2 separate regions of the Homo sapiens genome follow, and region 2 is linked to region 1. A link means that fine-mapping ties the variant in region 1 to the expression of a gene that starts in the linked region. Tissue or cell type: whole blood. Region 1 holds a variant in brackets; the other region holds the start of a gene. All regions are shown on one strand. Distances are between the middles of the regions.

Region 1 (8,000 bases):
GGAGGGCCCTCACGCAGCCTGGTAAATCAGGAAGGCTCCCTGGAAGACGAGTCTGGTTAGTGGCAATGAGCCCATCTACCCAACAGATCCTAACTGAGAGGCAAGGCCTGACAGAGCTCAACCCAGTTCCTAGGTCCTTGTGCTTCCTTCTAAAACACCTAGTTGCTAAAATGACCAAGTGCCAAGCACGGCACTATGATTACTTCCCCCGTACACAGGAGCCTTGGTCGTCTGTGATCTGGGGAGTGGGGCTGGGGCTCTCCTGTGGGCCAGGCAGAAGGCCTGCATCAGCCTTGCTAGGTGCTGTCACCTGGGGGCACCTTCCACTCCGATCCAATCTGTGGGGAAGGCTCAGGAGGAGCGGTTTCCCCATCCAGGGACTCACTGCCTCTTTCTGGAATAGTCCTGAATTTGGTGGAGGAAGACCCTGAAAGAAAGACCCACCTGCTGCCGGGCCCCCTCCAGCCTGGACGTCCTTAGGGAAGCATGTTTTGCAGCCTGACCTCTGCCCTGGCCTGTTCTCTGGGCTGCCTTTCCCCAGTTACTGTAAAAGATCGGGGAGAAGGTGACTGCTGGCATGAGGGGACTCGAGGTTTGACTTTAAAGTGCGAATGAGCAAGCTGTAAGTGTGAGAAGTGCAGCAGCCAGTTAGAGATTCACTGTCCTCCATCCACATTCCTTGAGAATTCAGACACTATGAAACCCAGTCTCTGGTGCGGCGGCTGTTTCTCAAGCAGGCAAGGAAGTAAGTAAGTTCTCCCGGCTTGCGAATGAGTGAATGGTGGGCATACGTCTTTCTGTCCGTGTTTTCTCCAGAGCTGGTGCTGGCTGGCTTGCTGGTGACCTTTGTATATGTGTTTTTACCCCTTCCTGCACCAGACTTTCAGGGAAGGAGGTTGGGTGGGTGACCATCAAACCACCAAGAAAAGGCAAGTCTGAGAAAGAGACACTAAGACCCAAGGGAAGGTCCATGTGCCTGGGGCCGAGGCAGAACTGGGTGCTGGGCCTCTGGAGGCGAAGGAACTGTGGGGATGCCCACTGGCAGGGAAACCGTGGGGATGCCCAAGCCCAGGGGCAGGGCAGGCCTGTCTGAGCTGTGGGGGAGTGGTGAGGACGCAAGGCTGGGCATGTAAGGAGGAGTGGGCCATCAGGGGATGGAGGCCATACCTCCTGACATGGAATAAACTGGGCGTAGGGGCTGGCAGGAGGCGAGGTGTTAGAATGGCCTTACAGACAAGGAGCATGGCCAGGGCCACACACAGCAGCTGGGGAAGGGGGTCCTTTGGCTGCCAATGGCTTGGAAAGGCTACAGCCCCAGGCTTGAGGGGGCTAGTGAGAGACCAGGCTGGAGAGAGTAGCGGTGCCAGGTGAGTTGTTCATGGGGTGCTGTGTCGGGGGCATGGAGGGGCTTCTGCAGGCGAAAGCTGGGTGCTCCAACCTGAGGCTATGGGGGAAGAGCCATGGGGAGGATACATGGAGGGTGATTAGACAGGGCTGCACTGGAAAGCAGACAGCAGGGTTTTCTGAGAGGGGCTGTGGCTGCAGCCTAGTGAGGGGTGATGTGCTCTCCAGGGGCTCCTGCAGTGACAGAGGGCAGCAGGAGACAGATGGCAGGGTGTGGTACCTGGGTAGATGTGGGAGGTGAGAGGGGGAGGATCAGTCCCCAGACTCCTCCCTTGTTTCTGGCCGGAGTGCCTGGGCATGGGGGTGCAGGAGGAGCAGCCGCCAGGGAGGGAAAGCCCATGCCAGCACTGGCGCTTTCCGATAGGTGTGCTGAGTGCAGGCAGCGGAGGCCTGTGTTGGTAGCTGCTCTCGGAATTCAGAGCCAGAGGGGACTCACGTGGTTGCGTGGTGTGCATCTCTGGAAGGATTATAGGTGCTAAATTCTCCATCTCAGCATTAAAAATGTACTTGTTATTTAGGTTATATTTTTACATGGTACCAACATTTTTTTAAAAGGTATGCTGAACACAGTGTCAAATGATCAATCCACAGCGGGGTTCCCTCTGCCACCCATACTCTCCAGCGTACCCCAGCTGGCTGACCCCGGTGCTCTTGATGGATTTTATTTCCAGGTCACTGGGGCATAGGTAGGGGTGGACACCTGTGAACATCCTTCCTTCTGTCGATTTTCTCTGCCGTGTGCTGTGGAGCCAAGCGTAAAGGGCTTTGGGAATAACAATCGCTGTGGGGTTCTGACGTCTTTGGAGCTGGGACAGCCCATGGTAGACTTGCGGTCCACCCATATCCTGGGCAGTGGCTTTCTGAAGTTCACGTGAGCCTGACTCTGACCTCTCCCCAGACCCCATCATCTCCAAGGAGGACCGCCACGGGCTTGGGGGGCTGGCTCTGCACACAGTGTTTCCATGTGGTCATTTGAGGCCAGTAATGGACACAGATTGCTCTTGGCTGTGCCTCACTTCCCTGTGGGGTCCAGAGACCTGGGTTTGAGTTTCTGAGTCTGTTTCCTGGCTGTGGATCTTTTCCTTCCTCTTTAAAGGGATGACAGCGCACAGGATTGAAGACACCTAAGAGATGCTGAAGGAATATTAATTGATTTTTACTCATCTGTTGTTATGATTAATGGTGGCATTTCAGTGGGGAAAATACAGCTACAGATGAAACTGGGCTGTTGAGAAAGATACATTGTTTCAGTGTGGAGAATATAGTATTTTTTTTTTTTTTTTGCCTCCCCTCTGTATCACTTTTGGGTTTCTAACAATTGTGGATTCCAGCTTACTCCTTCCTTTTTTAAAAGATAGATTTTATGGTTTTTTTAAAAAATTTGAAATGCAGGTATTTTTTTCCCCCTAAACATTGACAATTATTTTCATTCTCCATCATTTACTATTTGCTTAGGCTATGTAGATAACAAATAAGACAAAGTTATGTGAAAGCATGATCCCCATAGTGTTTTTTAATAATGATGATACATGAGGTGCTGGGAAGGGTTATATAAATGAGGTCTGCTCATAGCAGTTCTCCAATGTGGCCATTAAAAAAAAATCACATTTTTCACATTTTGGAAGACAGCGTGGGGAAATGCTCGTGAGTTGCTTTGAGTACTGTCGTCATACTCTGAGTGGTTTCATTTCTATCCGTTTTATTTTGGTTCCTGAGCTTTTTAGGTTTGCTGTTAGAAATAGAAGCTGTCACCGTGTTGCAGTCTTGTGCAGCTTCCGAAGCCTGTGGCACTCAGTTCTAGGGTGATTCTTTCTCCAGCCTTTGATGCACTGAGTCAATTTGAGCAAATCCTTTAAAAAAAAAAAAAAGTTCCCACATCCCATGTCAAGACAACAGAGCTCTGCCAGGGCAGGTGGGGCTCCCTGTGCTCCAGGGTGCCTGGGTGCCTTCTTGCAGGCAGGCTTCCAGAACCCCAGGCCCTCCTCACCACACCACGCAGGGTTGGGACTGGATCTCCCTGGTACCTGCCACCCTTGCTTGGCTGTCAAATGTCAAGAATTCCGTGGCCTCAGTGGAGCGTGCCAGGTAAGCATTTTACGTAAAAGCAAAGAAAAGAGATGGAATGAAGTACACAGGGGAAATAGGAAGGGATGGAACGGGGGTTTTAGAAAGGGCCAGAAGCAAGATTCTGCTCTTAAAGTAGCTGACTGTCCTGGCATTCTGGGGTGAAGGTATCCATAGCATTGCTACTCAGAGTGTGATCCTAGGGAATCTGGGTGCAGATGGAGAAACTCGGATGCAAACACTGGATTCCTCAGCAGTCGGTTCCCGTTTGGCCTGGTGCAGGGCTGAGACTCTGAGGAGGAGGCATCTTGACCTGAGGGCCCTGGACTGTGCTCCTTGTCCAGCTGGGCGCAGAACCATCGTAGTCAAAGCCAGGAATGGAGATGCATTGCCTCAGGTCAGTTCCAAAGACCAGGAAGCGTCCCTGAGTATTTCAGTTGAGTAAGGACCTGGCATCTCCCTCTTCAGCCCCTTCCCTGCTCTCATATTTTTATTCATGCTTTTAGAACTGCTAAATGTCAGGTGGGTGCAGTGGCTCACACCTGTAATCCCAGCACTTTGGGAGGCCGAGGCGGGTGGATCATGAGGTCAGGAGATCGAGACCATCCTGGCTAACACGGTGAAACCCTGTCTCTACTAAAAATACAAAAAATTAGCTGGGCGTGGTGGCAGGTGCCTGTAGTCCCAGCTACTCAGGAGGCTGAGGCAGGAGAATGGCGCGAACGCGGGAGGCGGAGCTTGCAGTGAGCCGAGATCGCGCCACTGAACTCTAGCCTGTGACAGAGCAAGACTCCGTCTCAAAAAAAAAAAAAAAAA[G/AG]AATTGCTAAATGTCACCTTGGCAGTGACACCTACCCTGCTTTCCCAGCAGACGCCTCTGCCCCCTACACACACACACACACACACATACACACACACACATGCACGCGCACACACGCACGCACACCAAGCTGAGCTGCCTGTTGGTGTGTCCTCCTGAGGCTGGGACTTGCTGGTCTCTGAGGAGCACGTGGTCTGGCCCTGATGTGCGCTGTGTCTACTGGGTGAGTGAATTAAGGACTGAGGTATTGTGCTACACAGGATGTGGCCAGGCCTCGAGGGTCTGTGCTTGCTAAAAATAACTCTAGATTATTCTTTTGCTCATTAAGTAATATGTACTTGTGGAAATCTTGGGAAGTCAAGATAGGCTCACAAATGAAAACCCAGAGATAATTATTGAAGCAATTTTTACATAAAATATGCTCCTTTTTCTATATGATGTGCATTCAGGTTAGGCTTTTCTGTGTCCCTAGTTTTGCCACTTGCATTTGGGGGAACAGTTGAGCATTTGCCTGTGCCATTTAAACACCTTGGAAATTGCTGTTAGAGTGGCTGCACCAGCTTCCCACCATCCCTATGTCCCAGCATCTAGAACCATTTCTCTGCTCCAGAGTCTCAAGTTCTAGGTTATTTCTGGTTTGCTGTTACTAACAGTCCTGCCCTGGGTGTCTCTGGACCTAAATCTTTGGGGACCTAAGTCACATCTCAGGCTGTTTCATTGGGTTATGGTCTAGAAGTGACTTCAGGATTTTGTTGCTAAAGAAGAAGGGGAGAATGGGGGACAGGTTGGGCTGCAGCTAGTCAGCTGTGTCCAGCACACTTGGGCCCTGGACTTAGAACTGGACAGGTTACTTGCCCCCTCTAAGCCTCAGTTTATTCTTCTGTAAAATGGAAATAATAATGGACCCAGTCTCATAGAGTTCCAGGAGTGAGGTCATGCAGATAAGGAACAGCACAGAACCTGTTTACCTAGTTTGTCCTCAGAAGGAGCTGTTTGTGATTATTTACTGGTGCCACCTCCACCACCATCATTGTCATCCTCAGTGGCCCAGGGAAGCGTGAGTCTGAATGAGGTGTGTTGTGTAGTTAAATGATGCGATGGGTAGATGAGCCAAAATGAAAGGATCTCTTCTGTTTGATTTATTTTCATGAGTAAAAAAGCCAGAAATGTCTGTAGCATAAGTTATGTCTGTTTGGTTTGGCTAAAGCAGGGCTGACCAGGGATGAGTCTCCTGCTGTGAGTGAGTGAGGTCCCAGCTTGTCCTCTGGGGTTAGAGCAGATTTTGCTCTGGCTGGGGTGCATTTGGGGGCATGGGCTGATTTATGTTTTCCTTCTTTCTGGATCTCCCCAGGTCTAGCCATGATGGGGTGAAGGCATCACCCCCAGGGAGTGCTGACCCCTGACCCTAGCCCCATGACCCCCTCCCGTGCTAGTTCATTATGGGCAGGGGAGGTCCCAGGGATTCCCCGCACACTCATCGTGACTTTTCCAAAAGCTGTGTAAATCCAGAGTTGTAACTTGGCTCTGTCTTTCTCCTTCCCCTTGATCCACCCTCAGCTCAAGAACTCCCCTGGGAAGCACAGTGGCTCCCGTCTTTGCCTCAAGTTCTCTGATGTTCTGCACAAATGGTAGGCAGAGACAGCCCTTTCAGGGACCTGATTGCCCTGGTGTCTAGTTCTCCTTTCACAGGCCTGTTTTCCAGCTCGACTGTCAATCTGAGTCTTTCTCTTTTTGAGCTTTATGCAATGGCCTTAGAGTATACCCTATAAGGAGATCCCGGCTTGCTGGTGCCCGGCCCTGCAGCTGTGTCCCAGAAACTTGGCGGTGGTGCATGGGGCTCACTCAGCACTTCTACAGAAGCCGCCTGGGGTGGCTCCCAGGGTTCCGGTGGGAATGGGGTACAGAGGCCTGAGAGGGGGCTTTGATCAGGTGTCCTGGGGGAACATTTAGAGCTCCTGGATTCTCTGCAGGAAGGCCACCAGCAGCCAGGCATGATGGCCTGTGTCTGTAATCCCAACACTTTGAGAGGCCAAGGCAGGAGAATTGCTTGAAGCCTGGAGTTCAAGACCAGCCTGGGCGACATAGTGAGACCCCATCTCTACGAAAATTTTAATTTTTATTTTTTGAGATGGAGTCTCGCTCTGTCGCCCAGGCTGGAGTGCAGTGGCGCGACCTCGGCTCACTGCAAGCTCTGCCTCCCACGTTCACGCCATTCTTCTGCCTCAGCCTCCCAAGTAGCTGGGACTACAGGTGCCCGCCACCACGCCCGGCTAATTTTTTGTATTTTTGGTAGAGACAGGGTTTCACCATGTTAGCCAGGATGGTCTCAATCTCCTGACCTCGTGATCCACCCACCTTGGCCTCCCAAAGTGCTGGGATTACAGGTGTGAGCCACCATGCCCGGCCAATTTTTTTTTTTTAAAGGTCACCAGCCCTGTTGTCTGGGCAGTAAGCACCTAGTAGGATTGCTTCAGAGTTCTAGAATGCGCATGTAAAAATTCCAAAGTGCGTTTGGCGTCTGGGCTGGGCTTCTATGAGCAGCCCAGGCAGCAGCAGTGAGAACTCCTGTGTGTGCCTCGTCTACTGAGTGCCAGGGTTAGTGCCCCACTTGCCAGGTGAGAGGACTGAGGCTCACACAGGTGGGCTTGTCACAGCCTAGCATGTGAGCTGTGGAGCTGGGATTGGATTCTAGAGGTGTGATGGCATAGCCAGTGCCTCTTCTGCTCCGAAGACTGCCTGCCTGGTGAGAGTCCAGTGACTCCTCCCTAGTTCCAGCTCCATCCCTCCAAGGCTGTGCAGTCCTGGGTAGTGGCACAACCTCTCTGAGGCCCATCTACCAGATGGTGATGAGATGGATGATTGAGACGAGGGGAGGGCAAGTGAGAAGGCCTTCTAAAACTCAGGCCCTCGTAGGAGAAGCGTGGGTAGCCTGAGGTCAGGGACAGGGCTTAGTGTGCTGTGTGGGGCTGTGGGGAGTGGGAAGCTCACTGGTTTTCTGGCTCCTGAGATGACTCGAGGGGTCTTGTGAAGCTCACACCCCTGTCTCACTGGGCAGGAGTTTGGCCTCCACTGTGGGTCTCTGCCATCTCAGGTGGGTGGGGGACCAGGGGTCCCTGGGCAGGAGGGTGTGGGTCCTGGCTTGGAGGCAGACCTTGGCTCACTCCCTTCCTTGCCCAGGCAGTATTTTTGCCGCAGGCCCTGCCAAGTAGAAATAAGTTATTTACAGTGTTTTGACAGGATCATCGGCAGCCGGGATGGGCAAGGATGCCTTTGGGACTGAGCTAATGGCCAAGGAGTGGGGCTTGGAGAAGGGTCTGGCGTGGGAGAGAGATGGGAGATGGGGGTGGGGTGGGGGCGCACATTTACTGAACTTGTTAAATCTTGACAAATGCCAGGCCTGGCCCTCCCTTAAGCCAGGGCTTTGGGGCCTGGTGAGGGCAGGACTTGATGAGTTTTCCTGTCGACCAAATATTCCGCCGGATCGCTCAGGACCCTCGGTTATTTTTGCTGTCTGAGCCCTCAGTGCCTTCCTTTGTCCATCAGGGACAAGGACCCCTGCCCACCCAGTATATCTTCTTGGGGAGAAGATGAAACGCCTTGGTGTATGGTAGGCCAGGCCCTGGCCTTGACTGTGAGCCTGGCAGCCCCTGCAGCCCCTCACACTGGGCCACCATTGACCTGCTTTACGACTTCAAATAGCACAGACCTGCCGTGGG
Region 2 (8,000 bases), 49 kb before region 1:
TGAGTGGTCGAGTTGAGAGCTAGAGACAGAGGACATTTGTGTTCACCTTGGAAGTCCCAGTGAGGACGAGCCTTACCTAGCTCCAACTCAGAAGGCCAGAAGGAAGAATGGTTTGGGGGAGGCTGTAATCAGGGGAAGGATGCAGGGCCCTGGGGTGAGCCCTAAATAAGGGGCTTCCTGTGAGCCTGAGGATGGCCATGCCCTTGTATATACTTTGTCCTCCAGGCAAGTTCTCTGCTGGCCCTTTAAATCTTCTCAACAGCTCTGGGTGGGGCATCTATCCCCACTTTACAGATGAAGATACCAAAAGAACTTCATCCAGGCCAGGCATGGTGGCTCATGCCTGTAATCCCAGCACTTTGGGAGGTCGAGGCAGGCAGATCACTTGAGGTCAGGAGTTTGAGACCAGCCTGGTTAACACGGTGAAACCCCATCTCTACTAAAAATACAAAAAATTAGCCGGGCGTGGTGGCGGGCGCCTGTAGTCCCAGCTACTCAGGAGGCTGAGGCAGGAGAATGGCATGAACCCGGGAGGTGGAGCTTGCAGTGAGCCGAGATTGCGCCACTGCACTCCAGTCTGGGCAACAAAGCAAGACTCCGTCTCAAAAAAAAAAAAAAATACAAAAATTAGCTGGGCGTGGTGACACGTGCCAATAGTCCCAGCTACCGGGAGGTCAAGGCAGGAGAATCGCTTGAACCCGGGAGGTGCACTGGACTCCAGCCTGGATGACACAACAAGACTCCATTTCAAAAAATAAAATAAAATAAAATAATAAAATAAGATAAAATAAAATAATATTAAGAAAAAAAAAGAACTTCATCCAGCTCCTGTTCAGAAGTGACCACACACACACTGTCTTCAGCATCCCTCCCAAGTTCCCCTGGTCCATTTCTCAGGCCTCATCTTCCTGCCCATCTCCATCTTACCGTGCCCTTATTTACGGTGTTCTTCCCTTTTCACCCTCTGAAACTTCGCACCTGTTTTCGCCTTTGCCTGGAATGTTGCCTCCTTCCCCCACTGAACTCCTTCCTACTCATCCTTCAAGATCCTATGCCACAGTCTCCCCAGTCATGCAGCAAAATGGGACAGATTGCCATCTTCCTTCCCATTTCCCTCTCAGCTCTCACCCCACGTTTCCTTTTTTCTTTCTTTTTTTTGTTTTTGAGATGGAGTTTTGCCCTTGCCGCCCAGGCTGGAGTGCAATGGCGCGACCTCGGCTGACCGCAACCTCCGCCTCTCTGGTTCAAGCGATTCTCCTGCCTCAGCCTCCCAAGTAGCTGGGATTACAGGCATGCGCCACCATGCCCACCTAATTTTGTATTTTTAGTAGAGATGGGGTTTCTCCATGTTGGTCAGGCTGGCCTCGAACTCCTGATCTCAGGTGATCCGCCTGCTTCGGCCTCCCAGCGCCCAGCCTCATCCCGTGTTTCTAATCAATGGCTTGTGTCCATTTTCCTCTGCCACACACTGGGCTCTCGTGTGTTTGCCAAAGGAGTGAGGGAATTCCAGGAACCCTCCTGAACCACCCAGCCTCAACTGGTCTTTCAGTTCCTAAGAACAGCAGGACATTTAAAGTCGATGCCTGTAATCCCTACTGCTGACTTCAAGTATCAAGTTTATAGTTGCTGCCCCCATCCCCTTCGTTTTTACTCCCTTAGCCGCCTTCTTTTTTTTTTTTTTTTTTTGAGACGGAGTCTCACTCTGTTGCCCAGGCTAGAGTGCAGTGGCACGATCTCAGCTCACTGCCAGCTCTGCCTCCCAGGTTCACGCCATTCTCCTGCCTTAGCCTCCCAAGTAGCTGGGACTACAGGCGCCCGCCACCACGCCCGGCTAATTTTTTGTATTTTTAGTAGAGACAGGGTTTCACCGTGTTAGCCAGGATGATCTCAATCTCCTGACCTCATGATGTGCCCACCTCGGCCTCCCAAAGTGCTGGGATTACAGGCATGAGCCACCATGCGCAGCCTCCCTTAGCCTTCTTTTATCCATCTTGTGCCTCGGCCCTAGGGGTCCTTGCTATGATCTTCCCTTTATCCAGCTTTCCATGTCCCCCCCAGGAGCCAGGCATTCTAAGCCACAGAGCTGACCCTGGAACCTGTCACCACTTACCTTCTAGGCTCCCATGGCCTATGAAACTCGCAGTACCCTTGCCTAAGGCATGCAGTGCCCGTCCCTAGCTGGCCCCCTGGAGGAGTCCTGTTTCCCACCCATCGTCTTTTCCACTCTCCATCCATCCGTTTTCTCTACCTTGTTAAAGAAAAAAACTAATCAGATTCTCGTTAAAGATGGCAGGGAAGCCAGGCGGGGTGGCTCAGGTCTACAATCCCAGCACTTTGGGAGGCCCAGGTGGGAGGACAGCTTGAGGCCAGGAGTTCGAGACCTGCCTGGGCAACACAGTGTAGTCCCAGCTGCTCGGGAGGCTGAGGTGGGAGGATCAGTTTAGCAGGGGTGTTCGAGGCTGCAGTGAGCTATGACTGCACCATTGCACTCCAGCCTGGGCAGCATAGAGAGATCCTTGTCTTTCTTTTTTTTTTGAGACGGAGTTTCTTAATGTAGGCCGGCCAGGGTGATCACATACCAAGCGTGGAGATATTCTTGACAGCAGGATTCTGGCTAAAACTGGACTAAGAAGGCCAAGGACAGAGCCCAAGGTCGGGGCCTGGTCAGAAAGAGGTCTCGGAGGAGCCTGACTCAAGTGTGATCAAGGGAAGTCTTGGTCACCCGCTGGCAACTTGGCTTTTTCTTGTCTCCCAGCCTCAATTCAAGCTCATCCCCCTTCCCTGCTCCATCAAAATCTCCTTGATTTCCAAGGCCAGCTTCAGTGTCTCCTCTCAAACTTTTCTGAGCCTTCCCTCCACGGGAATCCATTTTTCCTGCCTGGGCCTGGGGAGAGAAGTCCATTTCTCCTTCCCAAACCCAGAGACCATTGAGGCAGGAAAGCTCCCTGGCTGCCCCATAGGGCAGGGCAGGGTAGGCGGGGTTTAGTGACTCCCCGGCGCCGACGCTGACCCGCACCCCTGAGGAAGGGGTCTCCGGGGACGGCCGCTGTTGTCGCTGTCGCCTCCAGTCCCCGCCCCTTCCCCCCTCAGTGAAGGGGACCTAGAGTGAGAACTGGTGGTCACGTCCTACGCCTAGGAGGGCCCCTGGGTGTTCACCCACCCCCCCGGGGGGCCCCATCCTGGGCCAGGGTCCGCTTCCTCGAGGGAAGGGGCGAATTCCTGGAAGGTCTCCTTCCGGGCGCAGTTGCAATGGATTGCCTTGGGGGTGCTGAACCCTGCTGGGGGTACAGAGACGTTTCCGAAACTCAGCGGCTCGGTCGCCCCCAAAGGCCAGGCGGAACACACGCCCACACCGCGGCTCCCTTCCCGAAGTAAGACCGCCGGGCCACGGCCGCCCCCAGGAAGCCCCGCGCCCCGCACCCCACACCCGGGGACACAAACAGGCGCCGGGTAGCCGCGAGGGCCGGCGCGGCGCCTTTAAGAGGCGGCGGGCGGCGCTGCCCCCTGGCGGCCGCCCCGCCGCTTCCTCGCCGCCGCGGGCTCAAGCGGGGCGGCCGGGCCAGCGCGGGGCGGCGGCGGGCAGGGGCGGCGAGTGCGCGGGCGCTCGCCGCCGCCCTTCTCGGCGGGCAGCGCGCGAGGACCAGGCCGAGGAGGAAGTGGCGGCGGCGGCGGCGGGTGAGGATCTCTGGCCGGGCCGAGTGGCCGCGTGCGCCCCGCCGGGGTCCAAGCGCGCCCAGGGGTTACGGCCCGGCTGGGAACATCAGAGGGCGAGGACCCGGGCGGGAGGAGGAGGGAGGAAGGGCTCGGAGGCCGCGCTTCTGCCGCCGCCTGAGGGCGTGTGGCTCGGGCCCGCGCGGCGGGAGGGCGGGCAGGGCGGGGGCGGTGTCTGCGGAGGCCCGGCTTCCCCTCCTGCGGGCCCTGGCCCCAGCTCCGACTCAGACTCAGGCTCAGCCGTGCCCCAGCCTCAGCCGGCAGGCCGGGCGGCGCGGCGCTCGCGAGCCGGTGGGCGGGCGGGCGAGCCCGCAGGCGGCGGGGGCGTGGGCGGTGGCAGCTTGGCCCAGCCAGTGGCCTTCCGCGCTGAGCGCCGCTCCCTCCTCCCGGCCGCCCGCCGCGCCCCGCCCCGCTCCGCTCCGCGCGGCAGGACTGCGCGCCCCAGCTCCGATCCCCGTTCCGCGTCCCCGCCGCCGGGAGGAGGTGCCCACTCGCTCGCGGCGCGCGCCGGCCGCCAGACTCGGCCTGTGGGCGATTTCCTCCGGACCCAGGCTCCCCGCCCGAGGAGGAAGATGCAGACCTTTCTGAAAGGGAAGAGAGTTGGCTACTGGCTGAGCGAGAAGAAAATCAAGAAGCTGAATTTCCAGGCCTTCGCCGAGCTGTGCAGGTAAGGAGGGACGCGGCGCCGGCGCCCGGGGACCCCCGGCCCGAGCCCGGTGACCCCCGGCCCGAGCCCGGTGCAGCCTCATTAGTTGTTTTGGGAGATCGGAGCCAAACGGGAAGAAGCGGCGCGCGGGGAGACTGAGTCCGAGCAGCCAGGTGGCGGTGGCGGCCGCCGGCCGCGTTCCAGGGAAGCGGTGGCCGGTGCGGGCGAGGTGGCACGGACCGGGGCGTTCAGGTGCACTGTGACCCGGCTGGGGAGGCCCCCAGCAGCCCAGGGCGCGGTGGGAGTTCTACTGAGGGTTGCGGAGGGACCTGGGAAATCGGGGCATCCACGCTGTGGGGTAAGGGCTTGAGGGTACTTTTGGACCGGAGTGTTTTTCTTCCTTCGTCCCCTTCCCTTTCATGAAGAAAGGGCACCCACGTTTGTGGACCACCTACTATGTGCCCCGCGTGTGCTCGGCTCTTGAGGCTGTCATTGCATATCATGAGGTTAAGCCCAGTTGAAGCGAGTAGCAATTCTTGGCATGTATGTGGTGATTTGCTGTCTCATTAGAGCCTCGCAGCAGCCCTGCAAATTGGCCAGGGTGGTGATTCTGGGCCACCTGTCTGAGAACGGGGACCGATCGGCAGAGGAGCGGGGTACCTAGCTTGGGGTCCCGCAGCTAGGGAGTGGCTGGTGCGTAGAAAGTGCTGGGTAAATGCCCGTGGTGTGGAGTGGCCTTCTGCCATCTGGGCTGTGTGCCCCTGCTCCCACCATGCTGGTGCTCCTTGGCGGAGTCTCCGGTGTTTAACAGATCACGTTCTTAATAAATTACAGAACTACTGAGTCTTGGGTCAGGTAGGCCTTCCCTTGCTCCACAACTGTAGCTTTGCCTCTGAGAAGCAGTTAAGCCCTTTTCTCAATGCAAGCCTAAGAGAATCTAGCTCTGAAAGCCTTTTGCAAACTCCAGGTGGAAACCTTTTGTGATGCAGCTTGTTAGACTGATTTTTGAAAATGGGCTCTACTTGCATTTTTGTCCCTGTGGGGGCCCCACACATCTTGGAGAATTGAACAGTTGGGTTTCCGTAACCCCTGGTGCTCCTGGGGGCCCGTGGCTGGTCTGAGCTGGCATGCGCAGGTGAGCCTGGCAGCACCTCTGTGTGCCTCATGCCTTTCCCAAGGGCCTGCTGCTCCTTTGCCCCGTGCAAGCCCCGCAGGCGCTCTTCCTGCAGCCAGAGGGGCACAGCTTGTACAGGATAGTGCCTGGTTCTTTATCCCTTGGTCTGGGGATGGGGTTGGCTGCCTTCTCCCAGGCCGGTTTCCCTAGAAGACAGGCTCTTCATGATCAATAGGGCATGCAGAGTGGCCCCAGCAATTCATGAAGAAATCAGGAGGAGCTCGAAGCCAGAGCTTTGAAAATGAGTCTTAGGACCCTTGGAACATTACAAAAGGGTACTTGAACGTTGTACCGCGGATACACTCACTTGTGGGAAGGGCATTCTAAGACACTAAAGAAATTTGGAGCAGCTGCTTTGGCATGTTCTCGAAGTCCAGTTCTGATGTGAGGCACCGGAGCTCCCCCTGCAGTCATGTAAGACTTGGGAAATCCCAGCGAATACCTCGCACCCTTTGTACTGCTGTCTGTATTTATGTCATCTTGTGTCTGCAACTCAAGCTTGAGGCTTGTCATTGGGTTGGCTTGTTTTGCTTGGTAATTAGGAGGCTCTCGCAAAATATTCTTCGCCGAGACTCACAACTAGGTCCTCGTGCTGGACCTGCAGATTGGCTTGACCTTGTAGACATTCTTCCTTTAAAGGGGTGGGAGGTTCAGAGCAAGCTATGCTATCAACGTTCTGGGGAGTAGAGCATTACTTTCTCTGAAAGAGTTGTTGTCTTCAAAGTCTAGTTGCCTTCCTTTGGCCAAAATATTGGCTTCAAAGAAGGCAGAAGTCATCAGGGCCATTCTAGAACCCGAGGAAGCCCACTTTGTGTTTTCACTAGGGAAGCTTTAGATATTTTATCACTTAAGCCTAAGAAGGAAAAGAAAACACCAAAGAGTTTTTCCGTTTCTTATTTATTACTTTCAGGGCAGTGCCCCCTGGTGGCCACATTTCTATACTGGCTGCAAAATGCTGCAACTGTTGAGCCAGTGACCAGGGAGCCCCGTGAGGTTGTTTTGTTTGGTGTGAGGGCCAATGAGACTTTAGTGGCTGAGAGACAGTGCAAAGGACATTATCATGTTTTCCACATTCAGAATCTGGGGGCGCAGGGCTTCTGTACTGACGACGGGTGATGAATTGTCTATGAATTCCCTAATGAAAAAGTCTAAAGGTATTTGAAAATGGCCCTGCTTTGGGCCGGGTGCCGTGTCTTCTGTCTGTAATCCCAGCACTTTGGGAGTCCAAGGTGGGTGGGTCACGAGGTCAGGAGATCGAGACCATCCTGGCTAACATGGTGAAACCCCATCTCTACTAAAAATACAAAAATTAGCCGGGCATGATGGCAGGCGCCTGTAGTCCCAGCTACTCAGGAGGCTGAGGCAGGAGAATCACTTGAACCCGGGAGGCAGAGGTTGCAGTAAGTCGAGATGGTGCCACTGCACTCTAGCTTGGGTGACAGAGCGAGACTCCATCTCAAAAAAAAAAAAAAAAAAAATGGCCCTGCTCTTAATGTTTGGGCAAAGAATGACCCGAATGGTCCGGCCCGGGGTGGGTTGTTTAGCTGAATGTCCGGCCTTGTAAAAATCTGATCTCAGAGCAGGAAGAGATGTTGGCCATCATCTCATCTAGCCCCTTTGTCTTACAGATGGGGAAACCCATCAAGAGAGGGGGCAGGTTCCGGACTCTTGGTCTTTTCCTTTAACTTCTAGAATGGGTCCAACCTGGCTACCTTGAGATTGCCTTTCTGATTGGGCATCTCCGACAATAAGGCAGTCTCCCTCATTATCTTTCCAGGGGTCTGGTGGCTGCTATTTAGCCCCCAGGACACATTCCTTGCAAAGCTGAGCCCCTCTGCAAGTGTAATCCTTGTCTTGGGGGGAGGGTTTGGGGGGTAGTGCACGTTGATGGCAACAGTGGGTGGTTAGAGCCACTTCATGGGCCATGAAGTGCCCCACCTGCCGTAGGTAGGGACAGGCGCCAGCCTTTTCAGATGTGCACTCTGATAGGATGGGGCTCTGCTAGCCAGCAGATGGGCCTTTGAATCCACTTGTTTGTCAGTGGTACTGTTTGTTCCTGTTGCCATCCTGTTTCTTCCCCTTTCTCTGGGGACACGGCTCTGGTTGTGTTCTCTTGTACCCCTCCCACCTGCCTTCCCTAGCCTGGGAGCAACCTTGTAGGTCTCCCACACCACCCCCTCTTTGTGGCTTTTTTTTTTTTTTTTTGAGGTGGAGTCTCGCTTTGTCGCCCAGCCTGGAGTGCAGTGGCGCAATCTCGGCTCACTGCAACCTCCGCCTCCCAGGTTCAAGCTATTCTCCTGCCTCAGCCTCCTGAGTAGCTGGGATTACAGGTGCGCACCACCACGCCTGGCTAATTTTTGTATTTTTAGTGGAGATGGAGTTTTACCATGTTGTCCAGGCTGGTCTCGAACTCCTGACCTCAGGTGATCCGCCTGCCTTGCCCTCCCAGAGTGCTGGGATTACAGGCAT

Evidence for each region. PIP is the estimated chance that this variant, and not a neighbour inherited with it, causes the effect.
Region 2: it holds the start of ITPK1, and the variant in region 1 is fine-mapped to the expression of ITPK1 in whole blood (INTERVAL, PIP above 0.99).

The regions. Positions count from the first base shown.
Region 1 is chr14:93,062,692-93,070,691 of GRCh38, reverse strand. All of the region lies in intron 3 of ITPK1 (inositol-tetrakisphosphate 1-kinase), which reads left to right. It overlaps ITPK1-AS1 (ITPK1 antisense RNA 1), which reads right to left and starts at 3,240. Exons shown (of 1, transcript NR_002808.2): 1 at 1-3,240. The variant G/AG (reference allele first, on the strand shown) is at 4,285.
Region 2 is chr14:93,111,447-93,119,446 of GRCh38, reverse strand. It overlaps ITPK1 (inositol-tetrakisphosphate 1-kinase), which reads left to right and starts at 3,522. Exons shown (of 11, transcript NM_014216.6): 1 at 3,522-3,675; 2 at 4,142-4,378. The coding sequence starts at 4,284.